7 linked regions of the Homo sapiens genome follow. The protein of the gene in region 7 interacts with the protein of the main gene of each other region in a biochemical or structural test. Each region holds a gene or a part of one and is shown on either strand. Other genes may lie near its edges. The genes, in order: GPR12, RSBN1, PTPRZ1, SLC17A1, IGSF5, FZD4 and LIN7A.

What was found.
Region 1: the proteins of LIN7A (region 7) and GPR12 interact in a test that uses a peptide from one of them, tested with the Homo sapiens proteins (one large-scale study listed by IntAct).
Region 2: the proteins of LIN7A (region 7) and RSBN1 interact in a test that uses a peptide from one of them, tested with the Homo sapiens proteins (one large-scale study listed by IntAct).
Region 3: the proteins of LIN7A (region 7) and PTPRZ1 interact in a test that uses a peptide from one of them, tested with the Homo sapiens proteins (one large-scale study listed by IntAct).
Region 4: the proteins of LIN7A (region 7) and SLC17A1 interact in a test that uses a peptide from one of them, tested with the Homo sapiens proteins (one large-scale study listed by IntAct).
Region 5: the proteins of LIN7A (region 7) and IGSF5 interact in a test that uses a peptide from one of them, tested with the Homo sapiens proteins (one large-scale study listed by IntAct).
Region 6: the proteins of LIN7A (region 7) and FZD4 interact in a test that uses a peptide from one of them, tested with the Homo sapiens proteins (one large-scale study listed by IntAct).

Annotation. Positions count from the first base shown.
Region 1 is NC_000013.11:26,757,987-26,761,973, forward strand, and holds the start of GPR12 (G-protein coupled receptor 12), read right to left. Parts: upstream 2,801-3,987; 5' UTR 2,593-2,800; intron 1,857-2,592; 5' UTR 1,842-1,856; coding exon 837-1,841; 3' UTR 1-836. UniProt on the Homo sapiens protein: Promotes neurite outgrowth and blocks myelin inhibition in neurons. Receptor with constitutive G(s) signaling activity that stimulates cyclic AMP production.
Region 2 is NC_000001.11:113,761,332-113,764,404, forward strand, and holds the end of RSBN1 (lysine-specific demethylase 9), read right to left. Parts: 3' UTR 501-3,073; downstream 1-500. UniProt on the Homo sapiens protein: Histone demethylase that specifically demethylates dimethylated 'Lys-20' of histone H4 (H4K20me2), thereby modulating chromosome architecture.
Region 3 is NC_000007.14:121,879,661-121,883,160, reverse strand, and holds part of PTPRZ1 (receptor-type tyrosine-protein phosphatase zeta isoform 1 precursor), read right to left. Parts: intron 1-3,500. UniProt on the Homo sapiens protein: Protein tyrosine phosphatase that negatively regulates oligodendrocyte precursor proliferation in the embryonic spinal cord. Required for normal differentiation of the precursor cells into mature, fully myelinating oligodendrocytes.
Region 4 is NC_000006.12:25,825,553-25,829,052, reverse strand, and holds part of SLC17A1 (sodium-dependent phosphate transport protein 1), read left to right. Parts: intron 1-2,419; coding exon 2,420-2,592; intron 2,593-3,500. UniProt on the Homo sapiens protein: Important for the resorption of phosphate by the kidney. May be involved in actively transporting phosphate into cells via Na(+) cotransport in the renal brush border membrane. Plays a role in urate transport in the kidney.
Region 5 is NC_000021.9:39,799,882-39,802,581, forward strand, and holds the end of IGSF5 (immunoglobulin superfamily member 5), read left to right. Parts: intron 1-1,380; coding exon 1,381-1,476; 3' UTR 1,477-2,200; downstream 2,201-2,700. UniProt on the Homo sapiens protein: Provides, together with MAGI1, an adhesion machinery at tight junctions, which may regulate the permeability of kidney glomerulus and small intestinal epithelial cells. Mediates calcium-independent homophilic cell adhesion.
Region 6 is NC_000011.10:86,948,896-86,952,395, reverse strand, and holds part of FZD4 (frizzled-4 precursor), read left to right. Parts: coding exon 1-1,254; 3' UTR 1,255-3,500. UniProt on the Homo sapiens protein: Receptor for Wnt proteins.
Region 7 is NC_000012.12:80,812,435-80,815,934, reverse strand, and holds part of LIN7A (protein lin-7 homolog A), read left to right. Parts: intron 1-3,500. UniProt on the Homo sapiens protein: Plays a role in establishing and maintaining the asymmetric distribution of channels and receptors at the plasma membrane of polarized cells.

The sequences.
Region 1 (3,987 bases), on a different chromosome or scaffold from region 7:
CAATGGTGGATCTAATCAATCCTACTTCATATGAAGATCAAAACCTACTTCAGGATTCATTTTAGAAAGTACATATTGGAAAACTATATTGAAAAATGACCCGTTGGAATCTAGATTGACATGGCAACATTTGAAACAAGTGGTCTAGCTAACACAGTCGACCATGCAGAAGGAGTTGCAACATTTATAGAAATACCGAAGGAATTCTCGTGAACAGTAATTGCCGAAAGGAAAGAAAGAATGGATAAGAATGGGTTCACGGTTTCAGTGTCGGTGACATTACTGAGTTCATGTTAGCAAAATCAGGTCCCTTCCAAACACAATTATGTAAACTATTTGTATTGGATTGAAAGGGGTCATATTCTGTTACATACATGCAGCATTAAAAAATCTACCATCATGTAAAAAAAAAAAATAGTCTGGAAAAAGTAAGTCTTTCTCAATTTTCCTCAATCACTCAAATTTATTTTAAAGTCCAGGTAAAAACTCTGAAACTCATTTACTTCTAATAACATCATGGGCGTATCATATCCCTTCCTTTCCTACCCCCAGTCAGCCCTCCAAACAAAGTATAAAAGGAAACCCTTGCCCCCAAGCAAAACAAAATAATGTTGAGTGGAGAGCTCAACAATTTTTTTTAATGGTGAAAACACTGGTAACATTATTTTCACTTCAATCACTTAACTCATCTGAACGATGTCATTGTTTCACGAATGCTAAGTGCTCCTGTGGCTTGAGAGGGAATCCAATGCAAGGAATTCAAGGGAAGCATCTCAAACCTTGGCCAGGCAGTGGAAGTGCTTGGTAAATGCAGAGTCCTCCTGGGTGCAAGGGTGCTACACATCACTGGGCGAGCGCGCTCTCTGGGCGAGACTGGACGGGATGCAGCCGCAGCAAATGAGACAGAGCGCTTTCTGGATCTCTTGGTTTCTGAAAGCATATATGACAGGGTTGATGATGGAATTGTAGGTGGCGGGCAGGAGGGTGGCGTAGGTATAGATGGAGGGGTAGGTGTAATCCGCTATCAAGGAATAGAGGGTGAAAGGCATCCAGCAAGCAGCAAACGTCCCCAGGATGATAGCCAGGGTGGAGACCCCTTTCCGGGTGGTCACATAGTGCGACGTGGCCAGGAAGTGGTGCTGCAGGGCTATCTGATGGGCGTGCCTCATCACAATCTTACAGATCTGGATGTAGAGCTGAAGCATGAGCGCAAACATGAAGAGGAAGGACACCGAGAGGATGGCCGCGTTGTTCTTGGTGAGCGGTCTGACCACGCTGCAGGTGGACTCGTCTCGGAGGCAGTTCCAGCCCATGACGGGCAGCAGCCCCAGGCAGATGGAGGTCCCCCAGAGCATGACGAGCATGACATAGGTAAACGTGACCGTCCTCTCCGAATGGTACGTCAGAGCGTAGTACAGTGAGAGGTAGCGGTCAACAGTGATAGCCAGCAAGCTGCAGACAGAGGCAGAGAAAGAGGCGACAATGAGGCCGATCGTGACCAGCTTGGTGGCTTCTGACTGAAGCAGGTAGGCAAAAACAAAATTGGTGATGAGTCCAATGCCGGCCAGCAGGTCTGCAAGAGCCAGGCTGCCTATTAGCAGGAACATGGGTGCTCGCAGGCTGGGGTTGTGGAAGATGATAAGGACCACAATGGCATTTTCACAGGAGATGAGGGTTCCCGAGGTACACAAGACAATGTCCCAGGGGTTGACTACGAGCTCAGGCTCTGGCTCTACGGCAGGAACCCGGGAGGAGACAGCAGCCGAGATGTTCTCCGCAGCAGCGGCATCTAAATAATCCCGAGGCAGCCCGCTTAAATTGACCTTCAGGTCTTCATTCATTTTAACCCCTGTCCTCTTCAACGAAAAGACAGGCTTTTTAATGTTTAAATACAGCAGGGTGACAATCCAAGATCATGCAAAAAACACACAGACAAACAGAAAGCCAGCCCCTGCTCAGATACCAGTACCAAATGCCACAAGCTTCGGGAATGAGGAACTGTTGGGAAATGAAACAAAAGCCAAAGTCTCTGTGGTTTAAACCCCACAACAAAAATGCCGTTTGGCATTGGGGAAAACACAGGGTAGGACTTCAAAACACCAGCGTGAGCGAGGCAGGCACACACGGACTCGCGGCGGTCTGTTTGCAACAGCGCTGGGAATGCACATTGGAAAATCACATCTTGCATGCTGAAAACGAACAACTGTTTGACATCTGGGCTGCTGCCGAGAAAACCACGCGGCAGCGGCAGGTCTCGAGCCAGGGGCCGCCATCCTCGATGGAATATTTAAATCGCCTATTTCCATCGAACTCCCACCCTCCAAACGCATCCCCCGCGCGCGTGCACATCCTCAAACGCACCCCCGACCGGAACAAAGAGGGGCTCCAGACTCCCCCCGTGCGCACGGGGCAGTCGGGAGGGCCACGAGAGGGAGGTGTGTGCAATGGAAGTACCGAGACAGACAGACAGACAGATGCCCATGCACTGCTGCCGATTCCCTGGCGGCGGGGACGGGAGTCGGACGCGAGGGGGACAGACAGGGTGCGGGGACAGGCGGCCCGCGGGGGCGGGGGGGTCATCGAGGGGGTCACCTTGGCTCGCCCAGGCCGAGGGGGCTCCTCCGGTGCTTCCGAAGCGCGTGGGCTACTCGTGTCGCATGTCGGCGCAGTTGCCCGCTGTGGCAAGGGGGGGGCGGCCGGGCTCCGGAGCGGGCCGGGAGGGCGCGGGGCGCGCACTCCGCGGCAGGTGAGCGGCGCGGCTGCAGGTGAGCAGCAGCCTCGGCTCGCGCGCCCAGCTTTCCCCGCCGCGCCCGCCCGGCCCACACGCTCCCCGCGCGCGCGCCGCCCCCGCCCCGCGCGCGCCCGGCCGCCCGCCCGCCCGCGGGATCCCCGCGAGGCCGCGCGCCCCCACGGGTCAGGGCTGCTCTAGGGTGCGGGCAGGCGAGGGCGGCCCAGGGGCGCGGGGCGAGGGGCGAAGGAGCCAGGAGGCTGAGAACTGCATGGTAGCCCTGCCTGCCTGCCGCGCTGCGCGCCCCACCCCAGCCGGCGGCCCCGGGCTTGCACCGGGCGGGGCAGGGGAGCGCTGCCTGGAGCCCTGTGACCTATTTCGTTCCTGTGGTTTCCCTGGGGAGCTCCAAGTCTCTACAGTCCTGGCTTTTCCACGCCTTTACCTAAACCACTACATTCAGGGCCAAAAGAATTGCTTAGGATGATATTCACGATCAGCAGCAGGGATGCGGGGTGGACAGGTTAGGGAAGCAGATCTTTAAAACAACAAAATGCCCCGCACGCTCTTTTAGAATTGCCCATGGTCCTGGACCTGGTTCATTATCACTGTTCCCCAGGAACATTTGCTTGACTGGATAGATGCTGCTGCTCTGTGGATCATCATTATCATCACCAAATTGCACTTATTAAGCGCTCTTTGAGCTGTGTTTTCAAATGGAAATCATTTACTGAGTTCTTGTAGAAGCTTCCTGCAGACATTGGCCAAACCCCAATTCATTTAGATACTGAAGTGGCACTATTAATTTATTTTTTCATTTTGCCACATCAATGGATTCTAAGATGAAGAACCTGATAGCTGTCTGCTTTTATGATCCCATGCCTCCTCTGGATATAAAAACCAGAGCACCTCATAGATCTTAAGTTCCAAGATGATCCTCCAGTTTAAAGATGGGATAAGGAAAAAGTGTGATAGTCTTGTCTTGCCCTGTCAGAGGTGAAGGTTTTCCCACTGCTTTTCTTCCACTTGCCCAGGGGCTCTTGTATGAATGGAGATGGTCTGCAGGCAAGGGACCCTACAGGGGCATCATCAGCTGACCAGCCTGCCTTCCCCTGGTGCTCACGTCTTCTCTACCCCAGCCCAACAGATTCGGAGCCTCAATCACCCTTGACTTTCTTCCCGCTTCTCCTTCCCTTCTTCCATCAATCAGTTTCTGGCTCTGCAAGGTCACTCCAGCTCTCCCTGCATGCCACTTCTCATCA
Region 2 (3,073 bases), on a different chromosome or scaffold from region 7:
AATGTGAAGTCCCTTTCTTTTCCTTTCCTAGACAGAACCAAAGGCTATCAGTGCTTAGGACAGGTACCTCAATTAAAGATAACTTCACACAAAAACTGATGAGGAAAGAAATCCATTTTGTTGTGTCACATTAATACATCAATGACATAAAAGTCTATACGCCATCTTCATTAATACTCAATGCACTTTCAAGAAAATCCACATCACCAGAATAAAAATTTAAGACTGTCCTCTTTTAAGTAGATACACACCAATTTAAGCAATTAAGAGGCATTAACTACAACAAATGTCAAGTGTATTTTTTCTTCTTCCCCCAAACTAATTGCATCTCAATATGGATGGAATTTTCCCCAGACATCTTTAGGAAAGAAGTCATAAGATTTTCTAAAAATTTTTTTTGAAGTAGTAGGGGATACAGTAGGTGAGGGATTCGTCCTCTAAAAACAGGTTCCAGGTATTTAGAACTCACATATGCTATGCATTTTGTGATGAAACACCAGTAAAGGACAAATCAGACTTTTTTTATTAAAAAAATACTTTACAGGAAAAAAAAAAACTATGCATTCCATTGTCCTATTTTACAAAGAAATAGCTTAACAATTTAACACACTTAGACAGCTACAAAAAAGCACTGTGTTAAAAGGATTATTCACACAAATTTAGATTTAAGACTATTCATTAAAAACCTTTTTAAAACACTCGTTAATGTCAATAAACAAACTAAGGCCACACAACGCAAATAGTCCGCCAGGCAAATATACATTTCATCTATATGCAAAGACCTCTTAGATAAATAAAAGCCACAGGAAAAAAAGTCTTAGCTGCCAATCAAAATGGAGTTTACTCACAGAAAACACTATTACATGAAAATTTACAACATGTGATAGTAGTACATAAGTATTTCTTTAGAGAGAATTGAAAAGTGCTATATTTTAAGAGACAGTGGTCTCAACTACATGCACAAGTGGATCCTAAAAAATGTATGAAGAAAATGGAAGGCCATAATATTTATGGAGAGATACTTGCTTTTAAAGCAACAAACTTTCAAGACAAGGATAGGTCCCTTACGTGCTAAAGAAAAACATTTGTACTGTGCATTTCCTCTACTTGCATGGCCAATAAATACAGCTACGACCTGTTTGAAAAACAAAACAGATGTGAACCTCTGGCATGTGCTAGCTAGTGAAAGGTTCTTTTTTAAAAACCTGTAGCAATGATAAAACAGATTAGAAAGATACAAAATTATCCTAAAGGCATAAATGCAAATAAATTTTTTATGGCAAATACAGATGAAAATATAATGGGCTAATTTATTAATGATTAAGAATATATTCACTAAGCGTTTTCATGGATTTGGGAGTCTTGTTCCTATATTAGCTTTCATTCTAGACAATTAATATTTATATAGGGAAAGGCAATAAGCAAGTTTTTTCCAGTCATTAAGTGTGACTTTTATGCCTAGTAAGACTGATGCAAGACATCTTTTCCTAAAGTTTAGTAAACAACTTTAATAAGCTCCTTTTTCCCCCTACAAGAGCTTGTAATATTAGTCAACTGGTATTCCAACTGTCTCTTAAGGGGAAAGGGCACTTTTCAAAAGTCTTTCACTAAAAAATAATAAAAGTACCAGTTAAACAAATTCTAAGTACTGAATAAGCAAATTAAAGGTACAATTAAACCTAGGAACCAATTTTTAGAGTTAAAACTTTGGAGGAGAGAACATACTATATAGGTTTTTATTATTATTGCTTTATGAATTTGGGTTACCACTTTGAATCATCATCCTACTCCTAGCATATCTTGGTATAGAGAATTACTTCTGGGGCAAGAGGAAGACTTTTATGCTTTTTAATGAATACCATGAAATTATTCTACTTTACTAAGTTAGGAATATTCATTTATTGGGTCCTTTCCATAAGCACATTTAAAAACCATCCCTCTGCTCCACAAAATATTAAAACTTATAGCCACATTGTGCAAGTAATCTCAAGAGCTGGCACAACGGATAATATACCAAAAAGGAAGATCAGCTTAAATTTCAGTTACAACTTCACTGCCATCACTACTTTAACAAATCAGAAGACGCCAGATTGCTCCATGCCTCACTCCACCAAACCAAATAATTTAATGATTTAGAAAAATTGCAATCATTTGTATCACTAAACTAGGATACAGCTTTGAAAGCAGTAAAAAACGCAAAACTTCTGCTTTTATACTCATCAGTCTTTAAAGCATGCTATTAAAATCTAATACTCACATAGGACATTCAGTTTTCAGATCACGTTACTAGCTAAATGTTTCTCTTCATTCTATTGCAATTCTAACATACAATGAATTTATTAGTACATGATTTTAAACATTTTTATTGTACTCTTTTAATGTGTTTATATTGGAGGTGAGGGTAGAATGTTTTATAAAAGGAAAATGGGGATTTGCTTTTGATTGTAGGTCTTTGCAGATCCGCTGGTTCCTGAGTGATAATACACAGTGCTGGCTGTCAGGAGACAGTCTCCTTGTTTATTAGCAATGACCAGCTTGGATGACAGATGGCATCTGCTGGATGGCAAGTGGGAGATGGGGAAATCGGATCTTGGAAGACAAGAAAAAATTAAAAAAAAAAAATTTTTGCTTTAACAGCCTTCTCTTCATGATTATTTTTAAAAGCAAATGTTGCCTGAGAAGAATTTTACTTTGCACAGCCTGGTAAAGCTCTTCTGGACAGAAAAATAAAAACAAGAAATAACCCAAACCCACACACTTTGTGATTAAACCCCTCCCCAACAAAATAACAAAAAACACCCTCAAAGGCAGGTCCCGTTAAAAACTAGTCTGGATAAACTGGAATTTACCCTAGAATTTATACCCAAGATTTAAAAACACCCCTGCAATAATCACATTACCTTTCATACCATTCTAATTACCTTATTTACAAAGATAACTAAAGCCAACATCACTTCCAATTCATAAATGGTTTACATTGAAATGTATCCCTATTTGTCTTCATCCTTTGTAACAGAGAATACATACATATACATATATATAAGGAATAATACAGATTCTAACTAATCACTGC
Region 3 (3,500 bases), on a different chromosome or scaffold from region 7:
TACTGCCTTGTCTTAACAAATTTAAGAGTTTCACCATTCAATAAATAATCAGGTTTCAAGCGATCATCCTCTGTTTCTCTCTCTTCTTTCTTCCCTCCAAGTTATCAACTTCTGTGGACTTGTATGTATTTGCTACCTTCTCTTTTCCTTCCTGGATATTTCTCTGATTCCCTGTGTTCCATGCTACATCTTCACCTTCCCAGAGAAGACACTCCCTTAAGGATCACCAGTGACTCACTCCAGAGAATGGCACAATGTCCTACCAATTATACCAATTACATTCATATCAAGTGAGATAATGTATCTGAAAGTGCTTGTTAAACATTAAAGAATTCTATAAAGAGGATGATATTATTATATCCCAAATGATCTATAAATTTCCACTGTGACTGCCACCGTGTAAGAGGCTTTTAACCAAGCTTCCTGATTCCCTGTCTCCCTCGGCTTCAATCCATCCTATGCTCTGATACCTGAGTTATCTTCCTGAAATAAAGAGATCTATTCCAGTCATTTCACTGCTCAAAACCCTTTAGTAATTTCCCATTGTACAATGAGTAGATTTCAAACACAAAACTCTTCAATTGGCCATTGTAAATCCTACCTACCATTTGAGACCTTTTACTGTTATACTCCTCTCCCCACTGTCCCCTCCCTCCAATTACCACGTTCTCACTTTCAGTCCATGTTTCTCTGCATGCCAACCTTAATCCCTCTGATGCCTTCTGCTCCCATGGTGACCCCTGAAGCTCTATCCATTTATCCTGAATGGTCTATATCCAATCCCATCTCCTACTAGAAACCTTCTAAGAGGTGAATTTAAGACTAAATATATCTCCACACAGCTCACAGTCTCATATGCCAGAAACTCCATCATGTATGAGACCTACTTACGTATGCATCTTTCTATCTTGTAAAAGTTCAGCTGGCCATGAGAAGAATAGTCTCTCTGGAGGAATATTTATCCCAAGGAAGATGCTCAAAAATGATTCATTAAATTAATTTGTACTTGCATCATCACTAATAAGTATATTAAAGGAGTTATTTGAAACACCTAGAAAAGTTCATTGTTAATTTTTAAATGGAGTTATTGGTGCTTTTCAAATACAGTAAAAAGAAATAGCCTATACCTGATTAATAATTTCATAAAACACACAAATTGCTAAAATGAAAAAGCAATAGCTAAATCTTAATATTTATTTCATAACAGTAAACAAAAAGCCAAGTTCTAACAAATTATGCATGGAGAAAGAAAATAAATAACAGAGAACAAGAATATGTATCATTGATGAAATGAACGATATTATGTGCTTGTGTCTGGATAAATGTCACTTGGAGTCCCCATCTCGGAAGCTGGTTCATTTACCCTCCTACCAGCTGATAGACTTGAATCTTTGGACCCACTCCAAGACTGCCTGGCCTCCTAAAGTTTCCCTGGCTTTAAAAGACTATGAGGTCAATCACCATAGAGCATACTCCTCCTTCTAGGGTTACTCTGAAGCTGAAACTGCCTTAAGAAGAGAGAGAGAAGGGAAAATTTCCAGGACCTTTGTCTTGTGGCACTAGCTTTGTTTTAGGACAGCATAAGACCTGCAAATATCTCCACCTTAAGAAAAATGAACTAAGATTAGTAGTGTCATGAAGTTGGCCTAGATCTGTGGTTTCAGTCCCAGGCTGTGCTCTATAATCACCTGGAGAGTTTTAAGAAAATGTCCATGTCTGGGCTCAGCACCCATACATTATGAAGTACTTGATTTGATGCCCAGGCATCAGTATGATTTAAAAGTCTCCCAGGTGCATAGTCAGCTTGGGCTACTATAACAAAATACCATTTACTGGGTGGCTAACATAACAGACATTTATTTCTCACAGATATGGAGGCTGGGAAGTTTAAGATCAAAAGGCCAGCAGATTTGATTCCTGGCGAGGGCTCTCTTTCTGGATTGCAGATGGCTGCCTTCTTGCTGTGTCTTTACATGGTGAATAGAGAGAGGATTCTGGTCTTTTTCTCTTCTTATACAGACACTAAACCCATCAATGACAGCTTCACCCTCATGACCTAATTACCCTGCAAAGGCCCTGTCCCCAAATACGATCACAATGGCAGGTTAGGGCTTCAACATGAATTTTGGAGAGGACACAAACATTCAGTCCATAACACCAAGTAAGTTCAAAATGCAGCCAGGATTGAGAATTATCAACCTAGATAAATGGTTGTCAGCGTTTTTGTGCACTAAAACACACATGACAATAATATCCCACATGCTCCTCAAGGGTATCCTTATGCTCCTTTGGGCAGATCATGATTTTGCACAACTCTGTGTAGCAGCTGAGACAATACCACCTTGACATATCCTATTCAAGAAAATGTGTCAGAATGCAAGTGGGTAAAAATTTAATAATAGAAATAATTTTCAATCTGATGACAATATGAATAAAAACCATTAGAAAATCTAAAAACTTCCTTATATCTGGCCAGCATGTTCTAAGCATGTAATCAAGACTCTGTTTATTACCATGATCTCTGCTTAAAGGAGTCATTTTAAAAATCAATGTTTTATTTTATTCCTACTCAAGGTACTGAGTTAATCAGTTCAGAGAAAAGAGCTCATAGTGAGACCCATCCTTAGGTAAATACATTAGAGCTTTAGGATTCAAGAAATAGGCAGTTCAGTCAGTAACAGTGAAAAAGTAGAAAATTTATCCAGTAAGTGCTAAAGGGGAAGGCAGAGAGAGAGGGTAGAATGTTTCTCCAAGAGCAGGAAAATATCTGTATTCTCATCATAGTTATGGATATTCTAACAGAAAATCCTTCTTTCTTACTAATGAATAAATTATTTCCAAGTACCCAAGTACTACATTTCCAAGGAAACTTGTAAAAAAAACTATCCCCTGTTAGCATGCACATAAATTGACTTGTACTTATTGAATAAGGCCAAAAACTTCACATTAACCAGTACCCAAAATAACTGAGTTTACTTTAATATCTGTGGGCAAATATCAGAAGGGGAAAACAAAGACAATCAGCCCATTTTACCACACTGGAATATTTAGGCAAAAACATCTGCCAACTCATACTTTAAAAATTTTGTTAACTACAAAGACCCCCAAATGATATTAACACAGTAAAAATATTTTTAACTAATGGTTTCAAATAGCATTAATCTCTTCCCTATCAAACTTTTCATCAAGGTGCTGAGCAAACTTAAGTTTATTTAATTATCTTAAACTCATGCTAAAAGAAAGTGAAGCTGAAGAGGAAATAGCAACAAAAAAAGAAAAAGAAAAGAAGGAAGGATTAAAGGAATGAAGGATAAAAGGAGGAAGGGAGGGAAGAAGGGAGGAAAGGGGAAGGAAGGAAAAATAGAAGGAAGGAGGGAAAGAAAAAAGGAAGGGAGGAAGGTAGTTGAGAAGAAAATAAAGCAAATATCCTAACAAAAGATCATCTCCTTTTTTTCTGCTTTTGACTCCTATGAAGATTTTTAACTGATCCCATGTCCCAT
Region 4 (3,500 bases), on a different chromosome or scaffold from region 7:
CACCCATGCTTTTAAAAAAATGGTTTATTTTAAGCATATTTTATCTAATATTCTTATCTTTTAACAACGGAAGCTCAGTTGGCCAGAAAACTAGCCAACTATTTGTTGGGTACTAATGCTTTTTTTCATTTAACAGTTTATCTAAAGAGTATTCCACAATTTTTGGCAGAGATTTTCCTTAGCATTTTTATAGCTGCAAATGACTTTGGTATGGATGGATATATTATAATTTATTTAAATGGTCACTGATTTATAAACATCTAATTTGTTTACAGTCTTTTGCTAGTTCAAACGATTCTATAAGAATGTTGCAAAATGATATAAAATTCAATTCGGTAAGATGATGTAAAATATTTATTATCTAATAAAATAGCTTCCAATATATAAAGCAAAATAGTCTTATGAAAATTATAAAGACACCAAATCCTAAATAAAATATTAACAGAACAAAACAAATCTAAGAATTTATAAAAACATTAAAAAAGCAACCACCAACACTAAGTCAGGTTTATTCTTAAAATAAAAGAGTAACTTAATGTTAGAAAATGTATACATGTCACTCCACACAAATTAATTGAAAGAGGAAAACAGTATGATTATCTCAATAGATATAAAAAATCTATTTATTTATGATATTAATATTTATTTGCAATAAAAAATTCTTAGTTAACTATGAATGTGCAGTAGACAGAATTCCAAGATGGCACCCAAGCTCCCTGGCCCCTGTTTTATTCTTGGGTGGAACAATGAGCACAGAGGATACAGCCCAAAGCCCAGAGGGTGGAGCCAAGAGCCACAAGAATTATCTCCAGACCTTATGAAAAATCCAACATTGGCCTGGCTGAACTTCAGAACCTTTATGGATCGATGACTCCTTTTCTCCTCTATTTTTCCCACCTTGGAACTGGAATGTCTATAGCTTTATCCTACACCTGTTCCACCATTACGTGGTAAAAGTGTTAGGGGCATATAACTTGTCTCTTTAGTTTCACAAGCCCACAGATAGAAATTGTGCCCTAGGAGGGATTAATCATAGGCCCCTCTTCCACACCTGATTTAGATGATGAGATTTTGGACTTTGTGCTATGAGATTTTGATGAGGTTTTGAACTTGAGCTGATAATGTAATAAGATGAAGAATTTGGGAAGCTTGAAATGGGTGAATATGTTTTGCACGTGAAATGAACATGAGTCTTTAAGGGCCAGATGGTGGACTGTAGTAGGCAGAATTCTAAGTTTTCTCTCAAGATTCCCAGCCCCTGGTGTATACACACTTTCTCCCAGTTATTTAAGCAAACATTAAGCTAGGTGCTGCTTCAAGGGGTTTTGCAGATGTATTATGGTCCCAAATCAGTTAATCTTAAATAGCGAAATTATGCAGTTAGGAGAGATCTAATCACATGAGCCCTTTAAATCTGGTTGTACAGGTCAGAGGCAGAGTAGCTAGATTCAAAGTGTGAGAGGGATTCAACATAAAGTAGGTTCCCATTGCTGATTTTGGAGATGGAGGGGGCCATATAGATTAACTTTGCCTGTTTTTGAACTTCATAAAACTAGATTCCTATAGTATATACTGTCTGGTATCTAGCTTCTTTAACTGAACATGTTTTTGTTGAAATTCATCCAGATTTATCCAAATTGTTGTGTATAAGTAGTTCTTTCCTTTTATTTCTGAGTAATATGCATTGTATTAACATACCATGATATGTCCATTCTTTCCAAACATTCTGCTATTTTGAATAAATCTACTATAAACATTTCTGTATGTGTTGTTTTGTAGACATATACCTGTATTTCTCTTGAAAAAAATGCCATTTGTTGAAAAACACTTTACTTTCCTCCAATGGATTGCATTAGTACATTTATTTTTAAAAAGTTAACCATATATGTGTATCTGTTTCTGGACTCCCTACTTTCTTCCATCAATGAACTTGTTTGGCTGTACACCAACTGATTACTCTAGCTTATATCAATAAGTAATTACATTTTTTTAAAATGCCATTTTTTTCTCTGCATTGGGCATATATAAGTCTTTCAACCAGAGTATTTTTTAAATGTTGGAAAAGGAATAGTTTTCTTGACAGAAAATGTCTTTGTTGTAATTAGGGGGACTTATGTCCAAGAGTAACACAGGGTATTTATAAAGGGTCTTTTAAAAAATAGACTTGAGCCAAAGAACTTGAAAGATTGGCTTGATTTTCTTGGAACTTCTAGCTGGAAATACAATTTTAAGGAGAATATGGTATTATTATATCAGTCTCACATCTTCTTATTATATAATAATTATCAAAGGTCATTAAGTACAATAAAATTTTAAATTAATATCTAGGGCTCCAAATTTCTGAATGTCCCTCCTATAGTTAAAGTATGTTTTTATCTCAGCTCTGTCAGCAATTGCGACTTTCTGTTTTACTTTGTAGTTCCAGGTTTCTGTTCCTTTCGCTATGGATTGTCTTTCCTTGTGCACTGTTGTAATGTTATAATAACAGCACAGCGTGCGTGCCTGAACCTCACAATGGTAGTCATGGTGAATAGCACAGATCCACATGGTTTGCCCAACACCTCCACAAAGAAGCTCCTGGATAATATAAAGGTACATCAATAATTTTCCCCACAGTCAAATGTTTAAAAGCCTGTCTTGCTAACTAATTTGTGTAGATATGGAATTGTACTGATATGATACTATATTTGAAAAAGAAGCTCAAGTCTTCATCTACCTTGCCAGGAGTGACCTAAATAAAATGTCCCATGATTAAAGTATGCCTCAGTATTTCTGAAGGGCTTGTTGTGTAAATCCTTCTATGTGAGAGAGAATAAAACCCAAGAGTTAGGGCTTCTTTACAATCAAGAAATTTGGACAAGAGGAAAAAAAGGGAAAGCATTTTAAATTAGGAGTGGAAGGTGAAGACACATTACATTTTTAAAGTTTTTGACTTGCAGGATATTTAAATGTTTCATTAATTTCATCTCTGGAAGATAATCAGTTGTTATCTACCAGAAGATGTAGATGCAGCAAAAAATAAAAACAAGATAGGTAATGTCAGTAAAGAGATGGAAACTATAAAAAGAATGAAAAAGCAATACTAGAAATCAAGGAAATTATAACAAAGAATGCTTTTGAGGGGCTCATCAGTAGACTCCACACCACTGAGGAAATAATTAGTGAACATGAATATGGGTCAATAGAAACTCCCAAAGTTGAAATGCAAAGAGAAAGAGAATTTTAAAAAATTAACAGATCTTTCCCAAATTGTAGACAGTATCAAATGGTGTAACATGTGCATGACCAGAATGCCAGAGAGAATAGGAAACAAGAAATATTTTTTTCAAAAATTGGCTGAGAACTTTCCATAATTAATGACAAACATCAAACCACAGATCCAAGAAGCTCAGAGAACACCAAACAAGATAAATAGCAAAAACAAAAACAAAGAAAAGCCACCTAGGCATACCATATTTAAATTGCAGAAAACCAAGACAAAAAGAACATTTCAATAAAAC
Region 5 (2,700 bases), on a different chromosome or scaffold from region 7:
CAGAAGGAAAAAAGAGATTCATTTTCAAAACTGTCATATACAATATGACAATTTTCTTCTCTGATTATTTCTCTGATGACTGAATCTACAGTTAGAATATGTAGTACTGACATGGTTTTCTAGACAAGAGTTTCCCTGTTGGTGAAACAGAATGAATTTGGGTGCAACTGCAGCTGAAACACATTAGGGTAAAAGTAATAAGTAAAATTAGAAATTCCTACTAAAATAACCAATTACTGGGAAAGGCATGCTTTTTTATTTCAATATGAAGCCAGGGGATTTGCAAATGTTTTTTATTTTGGCGAATATTTAAAACAAAGAATCCTCCTTTTCCTCTCTTTGTCCTGTGCCTTAACTCACTGTCAGTGCATTTTCCTGGCTGTTTTAGGAAATTCTCTGTCTCTGTCATTTTCAGAAGATGGGCATATAAACAACTTGAGACCTGGATCAAGCCTTCCCCACAAATCACCCCCTCATTGAGACAAACAGAAATACATACTTGATAAATTTAGAAAACAGCGATGTTTGCACAACCCAGCAGTGAAAACAAAAGCAAACGACAGTAGGAATCTCTAGCATATTAGCAGCAGAAGGCACATGTCTTAAAGCACTGCTGACATAGTTCCATCCGCTGTCCAGTTTTCCCTGTGTTATTGGGAGTCAACAAATTAAGAGCGTGAGCCAGAGTAATTCTATCCTCAAGACTTGCTAGCATTCCATCACATTGTGAATAATTTATCATGCCCAGTTACATTATTTAAGATGTTAAGTGCAGCTATTGTGCCCTGGAACCTGAGCTGCCATTCTCAGGACTGGCAGGAAAAAAGTGTTGCACACATTTTAATAAGGCAATATTATGAGACAGGCATTGGCCACTCTGGAGGATTAAATGGTTTGTTTGGGATTACATTTCTGAATGAGAACAGGGAAGACTATGTTTCTCCCTGATAGGGAAAAGAGACAGGTGGGTGATCTATCTGGAGTCAGTTCTTCAATTTTGTCCCCCTGTTCTAGAAACAATGCACGCTCTTTAAGAAGTTTAGAAATATTTTATATTTTCATAAAAAATCTAGCCAGTAAAGCAAGAACTTCCTTAGGAAAATTGAAACACAAAACAAAACAATGAGTCGTGGTAATTTGCCTTAGTCAAAACAAATACTGATTCTTGGAATTGGATTGCCCTTTAGGGCCTGAACTTGGAAAACTTCTATATTGTGTGTTACCAGAAATAATGCAAGAAAGGAAGAGCTTATTTTAACATTTTTGTTCCTCTCCGTACCTTAATTTTATCTTAACAGATGAGTGAAGCTCTCTTTTCAAGTTTGCATTTTACAGTGATCTCAACCCATTAAATTGACTTTTTTCCTCCTCTGTTGCCAGCGGGCTGATCAACGTCCACCCAGGCCAGCAAGTCATCCACAGGCTTCTTTTAATCTGGCCAGTCCTGAGAAGGTCAGTAATACAACTGTAGTATAGCAAAGCCTTCCCCAAGCTCCACTGAGCACTTGGCTGACAATTCAAAACACGGCGATGGCATCCTTCCTTTCCATCCTAAGACTGGCCTGCAGCTTTGCCAACATTACCTGAAGAGGAGATGTCGGAGTCATCAGAACTGATACTTGACAGTGAGAGAAGGAATCGATTTTCCCAGAGTTCAAAGTAGAATGTGACTTTTAAGAGGTTTCATGGTTTTTGTGAATTCCATGAAGTTACTAAGTAAAAGCTGCAAATTCATCATAATTTTTCTCAACATTCAACACTCCTACTTGTTAATCCAACAAATGGTAGATAAAAGTCTGTATTCTACCATGCCTTTCAAAAGTTTTTATTATCTGAAAGCATATGAAGATGATATTTATGTATATTTAATATGTAGGGGTATTATTACATATTATCAGTGAAATACGAGTATAAAAATTAGGGTCAACCAGAAATCTGCAATTGACTGTCAAAACTGAGCTCAGTTAAAGTAAGATTCAATTCTAACATGGATGTGCACGTTCCTAAATATCTTATGATTGAATATTTACATGAAGGCATTCATTTTTATCTGCCCCTTTATCAGACCTATTTGCATCTCCTCAAATGAATTAGATGTGGCCTATGCTTTGCAGAGGATGGACCTCACCTACTCCGCACACCGTGAAAAAACTGGAAATGGGCATTGTAGTCTTTAATTAATAAAAACACCAAAAATGTGTATTGCCTTTCTTAACTCTTCACTATTCAGTTGGTCATTTAAAGAATCATAGTATTCGGGAATCAAGCCTTTTCCGAGAAGGAAAACAAGAGCCTTCTGCAAAAATCCATCACATCTTCACAATTATCTTTGCTGACTGTACATTCACTTCATTTAAAGTTAACATGAATGTTGTTATGAAGAATAAATTGCTGCCTTTCCCCAGTATTTTTCTTTTTCCATGTAGATACAGTCAGTGAATTTAACTGCCCATTCCACCCCTTCATATTTAACCTAGGGGCAAGACTGTGATTTGACCGTACTCTGAACTGGTTGGTGCAGATTTCTATGCTGGTTATAATTAGCAACTGCTTTGAGTCCCTCAAGCTCAACCATGCTATTGCTAAAGCAGAATTTGACTTTTAAAATATGTCAGGATTTTAGTGAATTCCTTACGGATACTTAGTAATAGATGCAAATTTGTCATGGTGTTTCTAATCACTCACTCCTGCTTGCTAATC
Region 6 (3,500 bases), on a different chromosome or scaffold from region 7:
TGTCTTTCAGTCAAGAGACGCTGTGAACCCGTCCTGAAGGAATTTGGATTTGCCTGGCCAGAGAGTCTGAACTGCAGCAAATTCCCACCACAGAACGACCACAACCACATGTGCATGGAAGGGCCAGGTGATGAAGAGGTGCCCTTACCTCACAAAACCCCCATCCAGCCTGGGGAAGAGTGTCACTCTGTGGGAACCAATTCTGATCAGTACATCTGGGTGAAAAGGAGCCTGAACTGTGTGCTCAAGTGTGGCTATGATGCTGGCTTATACAGCCGCTCAGCCAAGGAGTTCACTGATATCTGGATGGCTGTGTGGGCCAGCCTGTGTTTCATCTCCACTGCCTTCACAGTACTGACCTTCCTGATCGATTCTTCTAGGTTTTCCTACCCTGAGCGCCCCATCATATTTCTCAGTATGTGCTATAATATTTATAGCATTGCTTATATTGTCAGGCTGACTGTAGGCCGGGAAAGGATATCCTGTGATTTTGAAGAGGCAGCAGAACCTGTTCTCATCCAAGAAGGACTTAAGAACACAGGATGTGCAATAATTTTCTTGCTGATGTACTTTTTTGGAATGGCCAGCTCCATTTGGTGGGTTATTCTGACACTCACTTGGTTTTTGGCAGCAGGACTCAAATGGGGTCATGAAGCCATTGAAATGCACAGCTCTTATTTCCACATTGCAGCCTGGGCCATCCCCGCAGTGAAAACCATTGTCATCTTGATTATGAGACTGGTGGATGCAGATGAACTGACTGGCTTGTGCTATGTTGGAAACCAAAATCTCGATGCCCTCACCGGGTTCGTGGTGGCTCCCCTCTTTACTTATTTGGTCATTGGAACTTTGTTCATTGCTGCAGGTTTGGTGGCCTTGTTCAAAATTCGGTCAAATCTTCAAAAGGATGGGACAAAGACAGACAAGTTAGAAAGACTGATGGTCAAGATTGGGGTGTTCTCAGTACTGTACACAGTTCCTGCAACGTGTGTGATTGCCTGTTATTTTTATGAAATCTCCAACTGGGCACTTTTTCGGTATTCTGCAGATGATTCCAACATGGCTGTTGAAATGTTGAAAATTTTTATGTCTTTGTTGGTGGGCATCACTTCAGGCATGTGGATTTGGTCTGCCAAAACTCTTCACACGTGGCAGAAGTGTTCCAACAGATTGGTGAATTCTGGAAAGGTAAAGAGAGAGAAGAGAGGAAATGGTTGGGTGAAGCCTGGAAAAGGCAGTGAGACTGTGGTATAAGGCTAGTCAGCCTCCATGCTTTCTTCATTTTGAAGGGGGGAATGCCAGCATTTTGGAGGAAATTCTACTAAAAGTTTTATGCAGTGAATCTCAGTTTGAACAAACTAGCAACAATTAAGTGACCCCCGTCAACCCACTGCCTCCCACCCCGACCCCAGCATCAAAAAACCAATGATTTTGCTGCAGACTTTGGAATGATCCAAAATGGAAAAGCCAGTTAGAGGCTTTCAAAGCTGTGAAAAATCAAAACGTTGATCACTTTAGCAGGTTGCAGCTTGGAGCGTGGAGGTCCTGCCTAGATTCCAGGAAGTCCAGGGCGATACTGTTTTCCCCTGCAGGGTGGGATTTGAGCTGTGAGTTGGTAACTAGCAGGGAGAAATATTAACTTTTTTAACCCTTTACCATTTTAAATACTAACTGGGTCTTTCAGATAGCAAAGCAATCTATAAACACTGGAAACGCTGGGTTCAGAAAAGTGTTACAAGAGTTTTATAGTTTGGCTGATGTAACATAAACATCTTCTGTGGTGCGCTGTCTGCTGTTTAGAACTTTGTGGACTGCACTCCCAAGAAGTGGTGTTAGAATCTTTCAGTGCCTTTGTCATAAAACAGTTATTTGAACAAACAAAAGTACTGTACTCACACACATAAGGTATCCAGTGGATTTTTCTTCTCTGTCTTCCTCTCTTAAATTTCAACATCTCTCTTCTTGGCTGCTGCTGTTTTCTTCATTTTATGTTAATGACTCAAAAAAGGTATTTTTATAGAATTTTTGTACTGCAGCATGCTTAAAGAGGGGAAAAGGAAGGGTGATTCACTTTCTGACAATCACTTAATTCAGAGGAAAATGAGATTTACTAAGTTGACTTACCTGACGGACCCCAGAGACCTATTGCATTGAGCAGTGGGGACTTAATATATTTTACTTGTGTGATTGCATCTATGCAGACGCCAGTCTGGAAGAGCTGAAATGTTAAGTTTCTTGGCAACTTTGCATTCACACAGATTAGCTGTGTAATTTTTGTGTGTCAATTACAATTAAAAGCACATTGTTGGACCATGACATAGTATACTCAACTGACTTTAAAACTATGGTCAACTTCAACTTGCATTCTCAGAATGATAGTGCCTTTAAAAATTTTTTTATTTTTTAAAGCATAAGAATGTTATCAGAATCTGGTCTACTTAGGACAATGGAGACTTTTTCAGTTTTATAAAGGGAACTGAGGACAGCTAATCCAACTACTTGGTGCGTAATTGTTTCCTAGTAATTGGCAAAGGCTCCTTGTAAGATTTCACTGGAGGCAGTGTGGCCTGGAGTATTTATATGGTGCTTAATGAATCTCCAGAATGCCAGCCAGAAGCCTGATTGGTTAGTAGGGAATAAAGTGTAGACCATATGAAATGAACTGCAAACTCTAATAGCCCAGGTCTTAATTGCCTTTAGCAGAGGTATCCAAAGCTTTTAAAATTTATGCATACGTTCTTCACAAGGGGGTACCCCCAGCAGCCTCTCGAAAATTGCACTTCTCTTAAAACTGTAACTGGCCTTTCTCTTACCTTGCCTTAGGCGTTCTAATCATGAGATCTTGGGGACAAATTGACTATGTCACAGGTTGCTCTCCTTGTAACTCATACCTGTCTGCTTCAGCAACTGCTTTGCAATGACATTTATTTATTAATTCATGCCTTAAAAAAATAGGAAGGGAAGCTTTTTTTTTTCTTTTTTTTTTTTTCAATCACACTTTGTGGAAAAACATTTCCAGGGACTCAAAATTCCAAAAAGGTGGTCAAATTCTGGAAGTAAGCATTTCCTCTTTTTTAAAAATTTGGTTTGAGCCTTATGCCCATAGTTTGACATTTCCCTTTCTTCTTTCCTTTTTGTTTTTGTGTGGTTCTTGAGCTCTCTGACATCAAGATGCATGTAAAGTCGATTGTATGTTTTGGAAGGCAAAGTCTTGGCTTTTGAGACTGAAGTTAAGTGGGCACAGGTGGCCCCTGCTGCTGTGCCCAGTCTGAGTACCTTGGCTAGACTCTAGGTCAGGCTCCAGGAGCATGAGAATTGATCCCCAGAAGAACCATTTTAACTCCATCTGATACTCCATTGCCTATGAAATGTAAAATGTGAACTCCCTGTGCTGCTTGTAGACAGTTCCCATAACTGTCCACGGCCCTGGAGCACGCACCCAGGGGCAGAGCCTGCCCTTACTCACGCTCTGCTCTGGTGTCTTGGGAGTTGTGCAGGGA
Region 7 (3,500 bases):
CTTCTCTTTGGTCAAAATATTTCCTGGGTACCTACTATATACCCTCAGGCTGTTCTCATCACTCCTCACCTTCTTAATAAAATCCAATTTTACCAGACGTCCATTGCAAGGCCTTGTTAAATTAATTTATGCTAATGCAATAGGTACAACAAAACTCTTAAAGCAAGGGGATAAAACTTAAAAATATAGAATTTCAGCTTTTAAATGGAGGAGGGGGTTTCACTGTAAAATAAGAAGTCTTTTTAGAGCTCTTAAAGTCATATAAGAACCACCTTCTCAGCCTATGTAGGAAGCTGGTGCTACAAGTTTTCAGTGATTGCTCAAACTTACACTGGTTCTTATAAAAGACAACTCTGAATCAGGAGTGCTTGTATATACAGCTTTGATAAAAATAGCTTAACTGTTTATAAATAACCTATCACATTTCAAAATATGTCTTAAATATTTAGCTAGAAATGATGCATACTTTCATTAAGAGTGAGACACAGACTAAGTCAAAAGCAAGAATAGATGCTGAACTTTCAGGGCTCAAGGAATACCTGTGAAGGGCTTGCACATCAACATTTATACCCTAACTGAGTAGATCTTTTGGCTTCTTTTTATTCATGCAACAAGACTTCTGTGGCAAGATGGTTTGATTTCTTGTTCTTACCTTAAAAGGGAAAGAAAGAAGAAGAGAAAACTGCCTTATTCTTATTACAAAGTTATACTGATGGACTAAAAGCACTCCAGAGATAAATAATAGGTTAAGGAGACAAGCATATGTACTCAAAAGTATTTACAAAGTAGGCAAAGCTAGTGGGGAAAAAAAGGCCACAAAAATAATCCTTAAGACAAGATATGCTTCTGAAAACAATTAAAAAGCAAAGTTGAGGAGTGTTTGAAATAAAAATTTTTCAAGTATGCTTATATTTCTTAATATCTTTCTAAAATTCACTTCTTAGCTGCTTAATTATATAATTTGTAGGATGTTAGTAAAGCATTTCAGTAGTACAAATGAGGAACTGTGACACTGCCCAGATCTCTCATAGTGGCTCTGTGTCCTGGTGGGAAAGACAGTAGAGCCAAACCAACAGACCTGTTGACTCTGTTGAGCCTTAAAGAGAATCTGAGTCCTTGTCTAAACTGAAGATAAAGCATGAAGGCAAAATTTCTGGAATTGAAAACTGTGGAGTCTGCTTTTGATACATTGTTAACTGTGTGGGAGAGGGCAGAGCAGGGACTGGAAGAGGATAACCTTGATGGTTTTGCAGGGCCTGGTGTGTGGTGCACCAGCCAGCCGTTTTTCTCTCAACTCTTCACCACCACCGTGAGAGCCTAATGGCCCACACACATTAGTACCACAGCCCTCCTGTGGCAACTGAATCGCAGACACAGTGCCAAAACAGAGATAATGGGCCTCTAAAGGTCTGGCCTAGAATCTCCAACCCTATTAAATAAAAGCAAATAGAACAAAAGCCACGAAGAAGTCTACAGACTGATGATCTGGCCTAGAAACTGGGTGAACCATTATTAAAACATAAACATGTAAGTTTTAATATTAAAAAAGAAATTAGAGAAGGGTATGTAGACAACCAAATCACCAAGTTTTCCTTTCAAAGGAAAATTATATGCATTAACAAATCATCATGGGACCAGTTATAAAGAAATTACAAACATACTGAAAATAGGGTTTATATTGCACGATGCTGTCAAAGTTTACCTTCCTTTCATGTTTTCTCAAGAAACGTAGTAGACTATAATTCATAAAATAAATGCTTAATAAACATATTAGTTGAGTGGCTAAGCCAATGATCAAATGATCCCTTAAGTCTCCAAATCTGCAGTAGAAATTATGAATCTGAAGGTATAATTCAAGGGTGCTTAAGATTTCACTTCCTTTATTTTTCTGTAACTCAATTTAGTATCTTTTTGAGTTTCCCTTCTGCTTGGATTGTGAAAATGTAATGTCAAACAATTGAGGGTGGCCTTCTCTGCCTCTTCAGTGTGACTCCTAGGTCGTCTGACACTCTTTAACCTTATCTCAGTCTCCATCTATCACACTGCACAGTGATTTTTTTTCTCTGTACTTTACCCAAGAAGCAAGGCAAAAAGGCCTTGGCAGTTCAATCCTGTAAATTAAGGGTTCTGTCATCTGCCCTGGTGATCCGCTCAGAGGGGCAGGAGCCAGGGTTTCCTTATGTAGGGTCCTATAAAGTCTAATTACAACTTTCTTCTTTTTGCTTCTCCATCATCCTAACCTGGAGAATCTTCAGAAGATTGGGAAAAAAGCAGCATTGTGTTTACTTAGAGGAAGCATAGTTTCTCCAAGTATTGTCTACGCCATGATGTTCAAAAGACTGTTTTGAAACTCAAAAGCCAAGAATTGATTTGTTTTTTGTTTTCTGTATCTATCTTATAAGTATGTGTGCCTATTTGATTGTATCCTGAATAGATTTTTCTTAATATAAAATTATTCACTTATAATAAGGGCTTATTCAATGCATAACGATAGTGCCCTCCAGAAAAATTTCACCAGTTTTTGTTAAGTTATTAGCAGTCTGAGTCCAATTTTCCTACATCCTTGTCTGTACACCAAATTTTAAAATATATATTTATCATTTTTAAGTTAAAAATGAAATATTGACCAGGCACGGTGGCTTACGCCTGTAATCCCAGCACTTTGGGAGGCCGAGGTGGGCGGATCACAAGGTCAGGAGATCAAGACCATCCTGGCTAACATGGTGAAACCCTGTCTTTACTAAAAATAGAAAAAAATTAGCTGGGCGTGGTGGCAGGCACCTGTAGTCCCAGCTACTCGGGAGGCTGAGGCAGGAGAATGGCATGAACCCGGGAGGCGGAGCTTGCAGTGAGCCAAGATCGCGCCATTGCACTCTAGCCTGGGCAACAGAGCAAGACTCCGTCTCAAAAAAAAATATATCTGTATATTTATTTTTATGTCGGTCTATACTTCTTTGATTACTAGGGAGTTTGAATATCTTTTCTGAGGTCTATTGTCCATTTATATTTTTTATTTTTTGTCCATGCATGTCAACTGCTCATTCTGCTTAGATCTTTATTGACTTGTTAGAAGAATGAAGGGCAGGCTGGGTGTGGTGGCTCATGCCTGTACTCCCAGCAGCTTGAGAGGCTGAGGGAGGTGGATCGCTTGAGGTCAGGAGTTCAAGACCAGCCTGGCCAACATAGTGAAACGCCATCTCTACTAAAAATATAAAATTAGCCGGGCGTGGTGTTGCACACCTTTAATCCCAGCTACTCGAGAGGCTGAGGCAGGAGAATCTCTTGAACCCAGGAGGCGGAGGTGGTGGTGAGCCCAGATCAGGCCACTGCACACCAGCCTGGCCAACAAGAGTGAAACTCTGTCTCAAAAAAACAAAAAAGGGCAAATAAACCAGAAAAAAAACCCTTTTGCACTAAGTATATGACAGTCACATACTGAAACTGTTTTTCTGGTTTGCCTTTTTTTTTTTTTTTTTTTTTTTTTACAGTGTTTGAGACAT